Homo sapiens: one gene and its partner. The main gene of each other region encodes a partner of the protein of the gene in region 2 in a complex. Each region holds a gene or a part of one and is shown on either strand. Other genes may lie near its edges.

Evidence for each region. The genes of interacting proteins can lie anywhere in the genome.
Region 1: GINS3 (region 2) and MCM4 share a complex: the UniProt entries of both Homo sapiens proteins name them as parts of the CMG helicase complex.

Annotation. Positions count from the first base shown.
Region 1 is NC_000008.11:47,963,295-47,970,940, reverse strand, and holds part of MCM4 (DNA replication licensing factor MCM4), read right to left. Parts: intron 6,368-7,646; coding exon 6,229-6,367; intron 4,755-6,228; coding exon 4,534-4,754; intron 3,577-4,533; coding exon 3,456-3,576; intron 1,144-3,455; coding exon 884-1,143; intron 431-883; coding exon 65-430; intron 1-64. UniProt on the Homo sapiens protein: Acts as a component of the MCM2-7 complex (MCM complex) which is the replicative helicase essential for 'once per cell cycle' DNA replication initiation and elongation in eukaryotic cells.
Region 2 is NC_000016.10:58,388,106-58,396,257, reverse strand, and holds the start of GINS3 (DNA replication complex GINS protein PSF3), read right to left. Parts: upstream 3,788-8,152; 5' UTR 3,657-3,787; coding exon 3,471-3,656; intron 1,157-3,470; coding exon of another isoform or gene 1,040-1,156; intron 1-1,039. UniProt on the Homo sapiens protein: Required for correct functioning of the GINS complex, a complex that plays an essential role in the initiation of DNA replication, and progression of DNA replication forks.

The DNA of each region.
Region 1 (7,646 bases), on a different chromosome or scaffold from region 2:
CCTGTCTTTCAAGGGTCCACATATTTTAAACACGTCCATGTTCACGGTGGAGAAGGCGACTCACCTTTGCAATGGACAGAGTCTGCTGTTCCATGACTTCATGCAATACCGATCTTGTACTTTCATTCATCTTGTCGAACTCATCGATACAGCAGATGCCGTTGTCACTCAGGACAAGAGCACCTGTCTGCAGGACCAGCTGCCTTGTCTCAGGGTCTTTCATTACGTACGCAGTGAGGCCAACTGCACTGGAGCCCTTCCCAGACGTGTACTGGCCCCTGGGGACGAGGTTGTACACGTACTGCAGCAGCTGGGACTTGCTGGTACCAGGGTCGCCACACAGCAAGATGTTGATCTCAGCCCGAAATTTGCCCCTTCCAGTGTGACTAAAATCCTTCCTTGTCCCGCCAAAGAGCTGAAGCAAAATTCCCTAAATAATCAGAGACATGTCTAAACATTCATTTTCTGCACAGTTAACTGAGATGTAGTTTAAACTTTAGAGGTACTTTTCTCTCTTATAAAGAACTACAATTAAGAAATCACAGGAAGGTATAAAAAGGCTCGTGAAAGTGCTTGATATGCTTTAAGTTATCACTGACCAGTTCATCAGCACCTATCATTACACCAGAATGGTGGCCATGCAAGTCCCTATTCTGACACTGTGTGGCCTCTTCTGTTTAGAAACCTAAGTTTAGACCAGAGATGAGGATAGACAATGCTATGATTCTTCTCAACCAATGGCAAGTCAGGTTGCCAGCACTTGCTCTAACAGGCCACAACTCTGTCCTTTATGGCGGATGGCTCGAGTGGCGGAGTGGATGTTTATACTATTTGATCCCAAAGAATTGTAAATCCCAACCCCTAGTTTAAAATCCACTGTTACCTTCTTTATATCTTCATGTTCATAAATGCTTGGAGCCAAGGCTGAAGCAAGCCTCTCATAAATGTCTGGTTTCCTGGAAAGTTCCTTAAGCAATTCCACACGTTTCTCTGAAAAAAGTTTCTGTTCTGCTTCTTCATCAAGGCCATGCAGACGTTTTGCATCCGTTTTCCGATAATGAATGACATCAATGTGGGTTTTGTAGACAGACTTCACATTACTCACTCTTGGATTGACTCGAATAGGCACAGCTCGATAGATGCCTGAGGGCACAACCAGGAGATGCACTTTTACCTTCCCATATCTTCCTCCGAGTGGCTCAGCAACCAGCGTAGGCAACAGGTGCACTTCAGAGCGAGGCACCACGTCGGGCTGGCCCTGGAAAGGGTGAGCTCCACCGTCTCTTAAATGACCCTCCCAAGCCCAGGACTCAGGCCCACATTGCAAAGCTCCCGCTTGCTATGAGCAAGCAGGGAAATAGCAGCAGGAAACGGACAAGCTCGAAAGAACCAAGGTGGCTCATGTCTGTAATCCTAGCACTTTGGGAGGCTGAGGCAGGCGGATCACCTGAGGTTGGGAGTTCGAGACCACCCTAATCAACAAGGAGAACCCTGTCTCTACTAAAAATACAAAAATTAGCCGGGCGTGGTGGCACATGCCTGTAATCCCAGCTACTCGGGAGGCTGAGGCAGGAGAATGGCTTGAACCTGGGAGGCGGAGGTTGCGGTGAGCCAAGATGGTGCCATTGGACTCCAGCCTGGGTGACGAGAGCAAAACTCCGTCTCAAAAACAAAACAAAACAAAATGAAACAAAACAAAACAAAACAAAACAAAAGAGAAAGAACCCAGGTTTCTGCAAATGATAGACCCGAGGACGTGTTCACCTGGGCCCACTAGTCAGCAGTGCTCCAGGGCAACTGTAGCTACGTGAGCATGCCCACGGGCACAGTCACCCTGAGGGTGAAATGGAGCTGCTGTGCTTCTAGCTCAATGCTGGGTTCGTGGTTGTTTTTAATAAGCAGTATTTTTACTTCCCTAAGTTGAGTGTACAGAATCTGCCTAGCACTTACTTGACTGCAACAAAATGCTAAAATCCTCCAGTCATTAAAACTAGACTAGGTCCCCCCAACCTACCCACCACCCCCGACAAAAGCATGCAAATCATGCATTCTTCTGGAAGCCAGGCTCCTCACATACAGAGGTCTGATCTGATGTTCGTCTTTTCTGGATTTCAAACCAGAAGGCTTTAACTCCAGGCTGATTCCTGCAGCTTTTGGAGAAAGCCTGGCCTTTCCCCGTTACAGCTATCTCAACGCAATGGCACAGAGCACTGTCCTTGTTTATTCAGTGGGTCAGTGTAATTCTTGTTTAACACAACAAACCAGTTTACACACATTCTTAGAATACACACTATTCTTCACTCCAATATAGGCTAGGGATGGAAGATTATGTTTAAAGTGGCCCGGAATGATTTATCTCACAGAGCAGCATTGATACTTATTTCACATCTACACAGCACTTTCCACAGCCCCTTGGCCCCAAACACTCTCACACATGTATCATCACATTAACTCCACTTTGTAGGTGAGGAAACAAAAATATTGGACTAAATACTTTATCAAAGGTTTCAGGGTAGCAGGACTGGAAATGCGCACGTCACTCACTAAAAACTACGCATTCTTTCAAATTCTCCATGACTTCAAGTACTTTTACGACGGAAGATTGCCAGTGATAACTGCGGGACTTCACACTGGGGAAGAAACAGGGTGAGCACTGCCTCACTGAAGACAAGAGCCGATGCGTGGTGTGCCCCAGGCCCTCCGCTCAGGAGCAGATTCAGGCACTCCGCGACCGTCGCCACCTTGCCCATCAATGAAGAACCGTGCTGCCATCAACACTCCCTTGCCCCCAACCAAAATCCATTGTGACTCTACAGCATCAAAAGGAGGACTGCCACACTCATATGGTGCTGTGCAAAGAGCACTCTTGTGGCAGCAAGAGAAGGAGACCTGGGTCCTGGGTTCTGATTTACCGTGGCATCTGAGCTACTGCTGTCTATGCATCCCTGAACCTCAGCTTCTACACATGGAAACAAGTCACTGACTCATTTTTCTCTGTAACAAACAAATGTTAACCCTTGGCTATACATTTGGGAAATTAAGTAAAAATTACTTAAAACTCCAGCATTGGTGAGTAATACTTCTCTGAGCTGATGGCATAACTCAAAACTTTACCCATACAAGCCTGTCTGAGGCTGCTCTCTCATGATGCCAACAGTACTGACTTGAGACACACACAGCTCCAGGATACTGAGGTATCAAGAGGCGAGTGACCACACGAACCATGAGCTCCAACATTCAAGTTTGGGAAGAACTGAACAATTTCATACTGCTGGGCCATGGTACTCAGTTAAAAAGGTGGCAGATAAAGCAGGGATATACCCCACAGTCTCAAAGACAAGCAGTGACAACTGGAGGTAGAACTGGACCTGTGACCAAGTCCAATGACTCACTAAAGCACAGCATTGAAAGCAAGCCAGACATGCTCAAGTGCTGGTGCAAACCTACACTCTTACCTGTAACATTCACTCTGTCCCCAGGCTGGACCTTGTCAACGAGATCATTGTGAGCAAACAGGATAACTGTGTGTGGTGTCTGCCCTGCAGGCATGTCTTCCGGAGACTCCTGAAGCTTGATCTGAAGGTCAGCAAACAGAGAACATGTGGGCCACAAAGAGAGGGCAGGGGGACAAAATCTGCATGTCTTTGTACTGCTTTTGCCATATAAGGCTGCAGTGCATATCCCCACATAAATGATTGTCCATGTTTCTCATTATTTCCTTAGAAATTACTTCTTCTAAAGAAGTTGCTGCAACAGACAGCAACAAAACAGGGGAAGGAATGTAGGGAGCTGCGGTGGGGGAAGCTGAGATGCTTTTCATAAAGCAGGGTCGAGGAAGGCCTTTCCAAACCAGGTACCCTCTGAGAGGCCTAAGGATGCTGGGCTTTTCTCTAAGCCACTTTGGGGGCCTGCATGATTCTGAGAATAGGAGGCCATGTGCTCCTGCGGAGCAGGGTGCCTGCCTTTCTGTCTCCAGCTCTCCATCCCATGCAACATTAAAGAAACCATGCACACGCAGTCACAGAAAAACTCAAATCCTGTCCTCCCACATCTTTACAGTCACAATCACGGTAAATAAGCAATTTTCTACCTTCCCCTCACTTTTTTCTGTCATTTTAATAACTTCATCTTAAAATTTCATGAATATAGAGAAAAAAGACCAAACTTCTTAGACAGTAAAATTTGTGAAAAAATTTCAGAAAAATTCCTCAATCCTTTACCAATGGAAAAAGCAGAATGACATTTAACCAAGTATTCTCATCTCAAACGTTTGAAGCATTTTAGGCCATGAAAATACAGTGTCTCTAACAACAGACAGTGCCACTGGCAACAGCACAGGGACAGTGCCCTGAAGCAGGGGCTTTGCGTGCTCTGCATATTTAGCCCATAGGCCACTAACGAAACCCACAAGACCAGAGAGGGATGGATGCCATTCGGGAAGTGAGGCTCAGGGTCCGAGGGACAAGTTATAGTTGGCCTTTTGAGGATACAGACAGGCAAAGCATAGCCTGGGGGGCCAGGGTGGCTGCGCACCATCTGCTTGTCAGAGAAGAGGGAGCGGTTGTGGATGAGTGCCATGCTGTGGGTGGTGTGGCAGCGCCCGCACACACTGGGCTCTGCAATGCGGCCGCGGTCCATCTCCACCCGGGTCGTGTGGGCACACACTTGGCACTGGAAGAAGGCCTCCTGCATCTCGGGAATCAGCTGGGATGTCCTGATCACCATGCCGCTGATGGTGATGAGCTGGTCAATGTCTGTGAGGGGAGAAGAGAGGTCAGCACACCTGACCTGAGGTGTGGAGGTCCAGGAATAGCTGGGATCACAGACAGGAGCTAGGTGCCCAAGACTCTGCCTAGGGCGACCTTTCTGTGTCCAGTCATCTGCAGGCTATGTCTTCAGGAGACTCTCAAGCCCAGCGAACCTCTGGCCCTTCTTCCTCAGGGCCCCTGTCCAGCAGGCATCCCTCGTTCCCTTCTTGTCTGCCTACCCTGCTCCCTGCCTCCTGCCTCACTCACCTGGCCTCCTGTATGACACCCTGCTGTGTCAGGAAAAAAGCCAGACAGCCTGGACTGAGTCCTGACCCTAGCCTTTCTGTGTACATTTTGTGTCCCCTATAGAATGGGGTGGTATCAGCACCTATCCCAGAGCCAAGGACTGAACGTGCCAATGTACTTCAAGCCTAGTAAGAGCACCTGGTAGAGAAAAAGTCCTCTATACTTTAAAGTCATTATTATCCACACAGGAGAACCCCTTAGATGCTCTGATCTTTCACTCTTGCTCGTTTCCTCTATTATTTGAACCTTTCCTGACAGACAACTTTTTCCCTTTGAAGGTCCCACTGCCCGCAACTAATTTCCCCTGCTGGTTTCAGACAAGCTACCCTGTTCTGGCCTGTATTTAGCCACTGCTAGCCGTGAAGATCACCCTATCCTGCCACTGATTCATGAGACCTCTACAATTTTGTTGTTGTTGAGATGGGGTCTTAACCTGTTGCCCAGACTGGAGTACAGTGGTGCAATCACTGCTCACTGAAGCCTCAACCTGCCAGGCTCAAGTAAGCCCGTCACCTCAGCCTCCCAGAGTGCTAGGATTACATGTGTGAGCCACTGTGCCTTGCTAATTTCTTCTTAAAAAGAGATGGAGTCTCTTATGTCACTCAAGCTGGTCTCAAACTCCTGGCCTCAAGTGATCCTCAAATCTTTAAAATCTAATTTTTTTTTTTTTTTGAGACAGGGTCTCATTCTGTCACCCAGGCTGGAGTGCAATGGCACAGCCTCTGCTCAGTGCAACCTCCGCCTCCCGGGTTCAAGCGTTTCTCCTGCCTCAGCCTCCCGAGAGTAGCCGGGACTACAGGCGTGTGCCACCATGCCCTGGTAATTTTTCTATTTTTAGTAAAGGAGTTTTGCCATGTTGGCCAGGCTGGTCTCAAACTCCTGACCTCAGGTGATCCGCCTGCCTCGGCCTCCTGAAGTGCTGGGATTATAGGCGTGAGCCACTGTGCCCGGCCAATAGTCACATCTCTTATATCAGAAACTTCAATTAAATTTAAAAAGTATAGGGGGTTCATAAGTATATAGGATAACTGAATCTATATTATTGTCAATTTATAATCCGTCACCTTGACTACCACCGCCAATTACTTCTTTCATAATTTCTCAATGAAAACAAGGCTATTTTCATGTAAGGCATTTTCCTTCAACAAAAGTAATCCTATGAAAAATACATTACCTTCTGGATTCAGGTTTCTCATATTCTTAGTCTTCAATGCGTTGAATGGTCTTACTTGAATCTGATGTTCTAAGATTGAGTCAGGGTAACGGTCAAAGAAGATTTCATTGACAGCCATGTCAAAAGTTGGAATAACTTCCTGTAAAAACAAATATGAAGATGTATTTGTATTCATATCTCAGTGTTAAATATAATAAAGGCATGTCAGATTAGCAAAGTATAAAAAGACAACATGTCATGTCCCCAAAGTATTACCCTACAGAATCATGCACGTGCTGTTTTCAAATTTAGGTATGCTGAACTATCTATTTCTGCATATTTTCAATTGGGTTAAATTTCATAATTTATACGAAAGTGCCTTCTTGATGTATACTGGCATATTCTTTGCTTTCTATTAGAAGGGAAAAAGATTTTGACCTCACACTTTATTTTCCTTCTATAATGAAGTGATACCAAAGTAAGTTTTTTATTTATTTATTTTTAATTTTTGAGGCAGAGTTTCACTCTTGTTGCCCAGGCTGGAGTGCAACAGCATGATCTTGGCTCACTGCAACCTCTGCCTCTGGGATTCAAGTAATTCTCCTGCCTCAGCCTCCCGAGTAGCTGGGATTACAGGCATTTGCCACCACGCCTGACTAATTTTGTATTTTTAATAGAGACGGGGTTTCTCCACGTTGGTCAGGCTGGTCTTGAACTCCCAACCTCAGGTGATCTGCCTGCCTCGGCCTCCCAAAGTGCTGGGATCACAGGCATGAGCCACCGTGCCTGGCGATACCAAAGTAAGTTAAATCATATTTATTCAAATTTCTTAACATATGGTTCCCATTTTACAGATGAGGAAACAGCTTTTGGTTGGCTAAGGAACTTGACCAAGGTTATGCAGCCAGTAATCAGCAAAACCAAGATTCAAAAACCAAGTCTGCTTGCCTCCAAAGACTACACCCAGAGTCAACAGAGCTGATACTTCATTAATAGAAACTGACCTGAGGCTTAGAAGTAAAAGTCTACAGTACAATATATTCTTTCAAAGCAGCAGGAAGTATGTAATTCATTTAAAGTATTTCCATTTAAGATAACTTACTTCATGAAACCCAAGAAGCTATCAGTTTTAAGATTCATCATTTTTCTACATGAAAAACACTGCCAAGTAAACCATAACCTGTCATTGATAGTAATACAAGTCCCACTTTCAGGAACATTAAAATGTGAAAAAAAAATGTTCATCTTAAAGGAGATGATACATAGTTTTTTTTTGTTTGTTTGAGATGGAATCTCACTGTTGCCCAGGCTGGAGAGCAGTGGTGCCATCTCGGCTCACTGCACCTCTGCCTCCGGGGTTCAAGTGATTCTATCGCTTCAGACTCCCGAGTAGCTGGGACTACAGGCATGCACCACCATGTCTGGCTAATTTTTGTATT
Region 2 (8,152 bases):
ACCCGGCCAGCCGCCCCGTCTGGGAGGTGAGGGGCGCCTCTGCCCGGCCGCCCCTACTGGTAAGTGAGGAGCCCCTCTGCCCGGCCAGCCGCCCCGTCCAAGAGGGAGGTGGGGGGGTCAGCCCCCCACCCAGCCAGCCGCCCCGTCCGGGAGGGAGGTGGGGGAGTCAGCCCCCCGCCCGGCCAGCCGCCCCGTCCGGGAGGTGAGGGGCGCCTCTGCCCGGCCGCCCCTACTGGAAAGTGAGGAGCCCCTCTGCCCAGCCAGCCGCCCTGTCCGGGAGGGAGGTGGGGGGGCCAGCCCCCCGCCCAGCCAGCCGCCCCGTCCGGGAGGTGAGGGGCACCTCTGCCCGGCCGCCCCTACTGGGAAGTGAGGAGCCCCTCTGCCCGGCCACCACCCCGTCTGGGAGGTGTACTCAACAGCTCATTGAGAACGGGCCAGGATGACAATGGCGGCTTTGTGGAATAGAAAGGGGGGAAAGGTGGGGAAAAGATTGAGAAATCGGATGGTTGCTGTGTCTGTGTAGAAACAAGTAGACGTGGGAGACTTTTCATTTTGTTCTGTACTAAGAAAAATTCTTCTGCCTTGGGATCCTGTTGATCTGTGACCTTACCCCCAACCCTGTGCTCTCTGAAACATATGCTGTGTCCACTCAGGGGTTGAATGGATTAAGGGTGGTGCAAGATGTGCTTTGTTAAACAGATGCTTGAAGGCAGCATGCTCGTTAAGAGTCATCACCACTCCCTAATCTCAAGTACCCAGGGACACAAACACTGCGGAAGGCCGCAGGGTCCTCTGCCTAGGAAAACCAGAGACCTTTGTTCACTTGTTTATCTGCTTGACCTTCCCTCCACTATTGTCCTGTGACCCTGCCAAATCCCCCTTTGCGAGAAACACCCAAGAATGATCAATTAAAAAAAAAATATATATATATATATACAAATATTACAGAAGAATTTCAAATGTACAAATAGAAAAAAAAAAAAAAGAAAATTTAGACAAAAAAAAAATACAAAAATTAGCTGGACATGGTGGCATGTACCTGCAATACCAGCCACATAGGTGGCTGAGGTGGGAGGATCTCTGGAGCCTGGGAGGTCAAGGCTGCAGTGAGCCATATCACACCACTGCACTCCAGCCTGGGCAACAGAGCAAAACCCTGTCTCAAAAAAAAAAAAAAAAAATTAGATAAAATGGTCAAAGTTTTAGTTAAAAACCAAATATACCAAAACTAACACAAGAAGAAATCAAGTCTGAATAATCCTATAAATGAAATTAAATGTCATACAAACCTTCCTACACAAATCTCCCATGCAGAAGGATTCTAAAGATTTAATGTAGACACTCTGCACTCAAAGAAGTGGAACATAACTCCCTACTCCTTCAGTGTGACAGTGATAATGACTTCCATCCAAAGAGTACAGTATGAAAAGGTGGAGAAACCTAATGAACATTACCTCTGCCAAGGTTCAAATGAACAGTACAAAGTCCTGTTGATAGTAGGCACCCTTAATATGTGATGAAAATGGCACTTTACCTCTGTGGTCTTCCTCCCTAAAGCTGATAATCAAGTCTAATGCTGAGAAAAAAAGAATAAAAAACAAAAACAAAGAAGGCTGGGCGAGGTGGCTTACGCCTGTAATCCCAGTACTTTGGGAGGCTGAGTTGGGTGGATCACTTGAAGTCAGGAGTTCCAGACCAGCCTGGCCAACCTGGTGAAACCTCATCTCTACTAAAAATACAAAAATTGGCTGGGTGTGGTGGTGGGCGCCTGTAATCTCAGCTACTTGGGAGGCTGAGGCAGAATTGCTTGAACCCAGGAGGTGGAGGAGGCTGCAGTGAGCTGAGATTATGCCACTGCACTCTGGCCTAGATGACAGGGTAACTCCGTGTCAAAAAAACAAACAAAAAAACAAAACCAAAAACAAAACTACCCCCAAACCAAAGATTTCCAACTGAGGAACATTTTACAAAATACCTGACCACCACTCCACAAAACCGTCGAGGTCATTAGAACAAGGAGGTCTGATTAATTGTCACAACCAAGAGAAGGCTAAGGAAACATGTCTACTAAATGCAGTGTGGTATCCTAGGTGGAATCCTAGAATAGAAAAAGGGCATTAACTAAAAACTAAGGAAATATGAATTAAGTATGGGCAGCATAGCGCCATGTTTACCAGTGTGTATGGGAACGAAATCCTCATCTGCTAGGATGAAGTCAACAGATAATGTCTACATTAAAAAAAACAACCCAACAAGGTAAGTTTAAGAATATTATTTAGAAATATGAAGATGAATCTTGAAGACACCACTAAAAAAGGTACATGAGCCCTGTGGACTTGGAGGGGGAAGTGGGAAAAGGAAGGCAGGACCTGCTATTTTTTTTCTTATAAATCTTTTGGTACTATTTGACTTTTTTTTTTTTTTTTTTTGAGATGGAGTCTCACTCTGTCGCCAGGCTGGAGTGCAGTGGCACAGTCTCGGCTCACTGCAACCTCTGCCTCCTGGGTTCAAGAAATTCTCCTGCCTCAGCCTCCAGAGTAGCTGAGATTACAGGCGCCGGCCACCACACCCAGCTTTCTAGTAGAGATGGGGTTTCACCATGTTGGCCAGGATGGTCTGGATCTCTTGACCTCGTGATCCGCCCGCCTCAGCCTCCCAAAGTGCTGGGATTACAGGCGTGAGCCACCGCATCCGGCCTATTTGACTTTTAAAACGTTGGTTATGTATTACTTTGATAAAAATTAACTTGAAACAAACAGACCAAACAATAAACATCGTTCTATACAAAACTTAGGTGAAACAGGATATCCAAATTAATCATTACAAGCCATGTTCCTGGGACAATTTTATATTTGAAGCCATATGGCCTTGGGTTCCGAATCCCAGCTCACCACTAACTGAAGCCCTGGCCAAGTGACCCAGCCTTTCTGGTTGCTGAAGGATTAAAGGGAAAAGCTTACTCCCCACACCCAACCATGCTGCCACTAAGTAAGCCTCAGTAGGGCTTACTGATCCTGTCATCATTATGGAGGAATGAATTTAGCAACTTGGGGTTCCTACTTATCACATGCTCTTACAGAACCCAAAGCTGTTTTAAGGCAAACATGATCAGAACTCTAATTCTTAAGTATTCAGCTGGAGCCAATCTTTAAGCATTCAACACACGTTGCATGGGGTAGGGGGAAGACACTAATTTGGACAGTTTCAAAAAAGAAATCAATGTTGGAGGCTGCCTGGCGACCTAGGATAAATGTAGTTTCACCACAGATGGCGAACAAGAAGTCTGGAGACCACCCCGAGCGCGAAGGGACCCCCGCGGAGTTTCCGAGAAGTCGTTAGCGCCTTCGGCCCTGGCTCCTCGAAAACTACAAATCCCAAAGGGCAGCGCGCCCCGATGCGGCGTCCCAGGGCCGAGGGGCCCGCCGGGAGCTGCAGTCTTTCCGGGCAGGACCCCGCACCCAAAGGCTCACCTGTGGGACCGCGTTGTCAGTCTCGGCGCCTGCGCTCCGCTCCAGGAAGAAAGCGCCAAGGCGAGGCATGGCGGTCTCCGTGCGCACCGGCAGCTTCTCGTGGGACATCAGGATGTCGTCCAAAGAAAGAAAGTTCTCCTCAGGCCCCAGCGCACCCGACTCCACTCGGAAATAAGCCTCTGACATGGCGGCCACTTGAGCTTCTCCGCTTCCACTCGCGTGATTCGGAGGAGCCTCAGGAGTTAGGGGTGTACAAGACGGGGAAGCGGAGACTGGGCAGGATGGTTGGGGTCAGGAAAGTGGATTGAAACTCGTTTCCCGCGCCCGGGGACGCATCAGACAGGAGCAGTCAATTCGGGCGGTACCGCCCAGGCAGAAGCAATCGATCAAGTCTGCAGATTTAGAGCAGCGGGACACGGCTGGGGAGCGGTAGGTGGGGGCGCCGGAAGTTCTCTTCCCTCCGCTTGCTGCACGGTGTGGGAACGTTACGAAGAAGCTGGAACGCTCGTTGAAGCTCCTGGACCCATTTGTACTGGATTGTGTTCATGTGATCCTTAACTATTTATATGAAATTAAAAACACTTTGCAACACTTTTAGGGGTTTAAAATAAAAGCATCTTGTGCCCTTCACTCCAGGCCTAAGTCCGACCCTTTCCTACAGTTTTTTTCACTATGCAACTCCGTTAATCTTAGTATTTGAAAGAAATGTTAAACAAACAAAAACTTCCAGCACTATCCCCAGCGAGTTATTATGGTCTAGATGATGAACTAGTGTGTTGTATTTTGTTAGTATTTTGGTGGGGGTTGGACGGGGTGGGTAGAGGGGTGGAGCACTAGACTGCACATGGCTTGCTAAGGTTGTGAGTATACTTCAGGGTGTCTTAGCTCATCATCAACTGACAATCTCCTTTTGTGGCTCTGAATTTAAATCCCTAAAAATGGAAATCCAATTGGTCCAGTTTATTGATTGGTCCAGGTACGCCACAATGGTCATAGATCTCCAGCCACCCTGTAGATGGGGGTGCCTGTGTTGGGTGCGATCACTATCCAGTGACCAGGGGAAGGACCATGGTCGCATAGTACCAGGTTTGGTGGCTCTCCTCAGCCAGGGCTATGGGTGGCGGCATATTGTTGAGAGATGCACTACAGAACTTACTTCGTCTAGAGCATTTCTGGGGCTACTGGAGCCGGGAGTAAAGGGTGTGTGTGAAGGGAGGTGTGTATTAACCATGGATTTTAGTTTCTGTTTTCTGTATTTTATGATGCTTTGACATCTTGGGGCCTTGGGGACCTGGGGAGGAATTGCCCCTTTCAGAGTTAGCTAATTCCTAGAGATAGCAAACAACTTGCTTGTGAACACCCCTTTCATTTACAAACCAACCAACCCAAGCCTATATCCCCACACCATCTTTATCCATCTCACACACCAATATTTTCCCTGCCCCAAGTCACTGTAATAAACCACCCCATGGCCAAGTACCAGACAACTAAAATTCACCTCTATATCCCAGAGCTTGCCAACATTATTCAAATTATTCAATCCTAAGCTTGTTCAGACTTCCCTTCCCTGCTTCGCCCATTCCTTCCCACGGCAATAAAGGCTCTGGGCTTTCTCCTCGCTCTCTCTACCTCCTCATTGACCCTAATACTTTCTCGTGTGGCCGTAGGCACAGCCCCTTCTCTTGAGAACTATAATAAAATTTTCAAAGGCATTGGCCACTAACTCATTGATTGTCATCACCCAGTCACCTTTATAAATGAAATTCTGAGGACAATGAAAACAAGGTGCAGTGGGGTGGAAAGGAATGGCCAAACTGTGGAAAATCTTGGTACCATTCTAAGGAGTTAGGCCATTCCATAGAAAATGGGAGGAAAATGTAAGGCAAATAATAACATAAATCTGGGCTTCAGGAAGAGAATTCCAGCAGTAGATAAAGAAGAGAGAGATTAGATGCTTGGAAGCTGTTCAGTGGGCAGTATTTGGCAACCAATTGGATATAGGAAGTGAAGTATAGTGAGTAGTCAAAAGATTCAAGTTTTGAACGTGGCTGACCAGGTGGATGGACATGTCATGAATAGATACACAGAACACAGGAATAGGGGCAGCTGGAGGGAAGGGATGAGTTCAGTTTGGGACACATGGTGTCCAAGAGCTACTAGACAGGAAGGTCTGCAGCCCAGTGGAGAAAGCAGCCTAGAAGCTTTAGAGAGGAGGCACACTGAGAGGCAGTTATATGAAGGTTTTTTCCTTTTTCATATTTTAAATGTTCAGTTTGTGATACAGTCCAATGTAAAAATAAACACAATCTGCAGTGATAATTTAGAATTTCTCTGATGACATGGAATATATGGTACTGGATGTAGTTTGAGACAGAAATATAATTTGGCTAATTGAAGGCAATGTTATTTACTGCCAAGGAGAGTAAGCTATTTTTTATGCTGATATAATTAAGATAGATGCATACTGATTTATTGATGCCAAAGAAAGGCATTATTTTTGTACAGAGACCACAATACTGGCTCCAAACTCAAATACCACTATTATTTTAATAATACAGTAACAGGCCAATGTTTAACATAAAATCAGATTGCCTTGTTTGTCTTACTTAATGTCTTGGCTCATCATGAAACTATCATTGTGTATATATTGTTCTATTTAAACTGTCCTCTCCTTGAACTAATAAACAAGTGAATAAATCAGAAAAAGGTGAAATTAGTGAATGTTTGAGCTTATGATGCTGAACTGCATCAATTCATTTAACAAAAGTGGCATGTGGTTTTCAAGCATAGATATGTGTTAATAGCTTAAATCCTAAGAACCAGGAGTATTTCTGTTCCCTGAGAAAGCTGTGTTCCTTGGCACCCAGCCAACCAATCAATGTACCAGTATTATGCTGAACAGAATTGCATTATACTGATAATATTCACAGTATATTTGGTATATTTACAATATACAAAATTTAGTATTCTGAAAAGTGTCTGCTGGATTCTTGAAAACAGAGTATTTTTTTCATTGTAATCCTTTCAAGATTTCAGAATCATAGAACTACAGTGTTTTAGAACTTAGAACAAGTGTTTTGGTGAACAGGGCAGGGGCCTCTTTAGCTTTTATGACTTGCCCTCAAAAGTCATAGCCTCCAAAGAACACACAGGCTTTAGATGAGCAAAACCTCAAGCAGTTTTACGTCTGTTCTTTTGAATACCAGTGCTTTCTAAATTTCTTTCATTGAGTGGGGAGGTTGTGGTGCAAGTGACAGAAATGCAAATCTGGGGGTGGGGAGAAAAAGAAGAAATATGAAAAACTGTACACATGGTTCATTGAAAGAAAAAGAAAGAAAAAAGAAATGTATTGGGCGCCATCCTTCCAGTTGCTTGGTCAGGTCAAAATTTGGGGGTTTTCCTTGATCTCCTCCCCTAACCCTTACACTTTGTAATGGCCCATCAGCTAAATGGCCCATCAGCAAATGTTGACTTAACATTCATATTTCTAGAATCTGACCATTTCTCATCATTCTGGTTTAAGCCACCATCATCTCTTGCTTGGATTTTTGCATTAGCTCTCTAGTCTTCTTGCTTCTGCCCATGACCTCCCTATTGTTCCTTAAGCATCCCAGACACACTCGGTCCTCAGTGCTTTGCCTTGTTTGTTCCACTACCTGAATTGTGTTTCTCTTGGATTTCCACATGGCTTGTCCCTTTCAGGTCTTTACTTAAAAGTCACTGTCTCGATGAGGTCTTCCCTGGCCGCCCTATCTAAAATTTTAACTATTTAACAACAATTTTAATGACTCACACACTTGATATCCCCTGCTATGGTTTGACTGTATCCCCCAAAATTCATGCATTGGAAACTTAATCCCCAATACAATAATGTTGGGATGTGAGTCCTAATGGGAGGTGTTTAGATCATGAGGGCTCTACCCTCAAGAATGGATTAATGCCATTATAGAAAGGGATTGGAGGAGTGGGTTCTCTCTCTACACATGCCATGTGAGGACACAGAATTTGTCCCATTGGCCCTTCTGACTTCCACCATGTGAGGACAGCAAGAAGGCCCTCATCAGACGCTGGTGCCTTGATCTTGGACTTCCCAGCCTCCAGAATTATAAGAGAATAAATTTCTGTTCTTTAGAAATTACCCAGTCTCAGCTATTCTGTTACAGCAGCACAGAATGGACTAAGACACCCCGTTTTCCCTTCAGTACTGATCAGTCTCTAACTATATATTTTACTTATCTTGTTTATTTTACTTTATTATTTTTCTTTTGAGAAGGAGTTTCTCTCTTGTTGCCCAGGCTGGAGTGCAATGGCACAATCTCTGCTCACTGCAACCTCCACCTCCAGGGTTCAAGTGATTCTCCTGCCTCAGCTTCCCGAGTAGCTGGGATTACAGGCATCAGCCACCAAGCCCCGCTAACTTGTATTTTTAGTAGAGACGGGGTTTCACCATGTTGGCCAGGCTGGTCTCGAACTCCTGACCTCAAGTGATCTGCCCACCTCGGCCTCCCAAAGTGCTGGCATTACAGGTGTGAGCCACCTTGCCCGTCCTTTTATCTTGTTTATTGTCTGTCACCCCTACTAAAACATTAGCTCCATGAGGGTGGGGATATTTTTTAGTCTCTTTTTCACTGCTATATCCCCGCTGCCTAGTATGTATTAGGCACTTTGTAAATATTTATTGA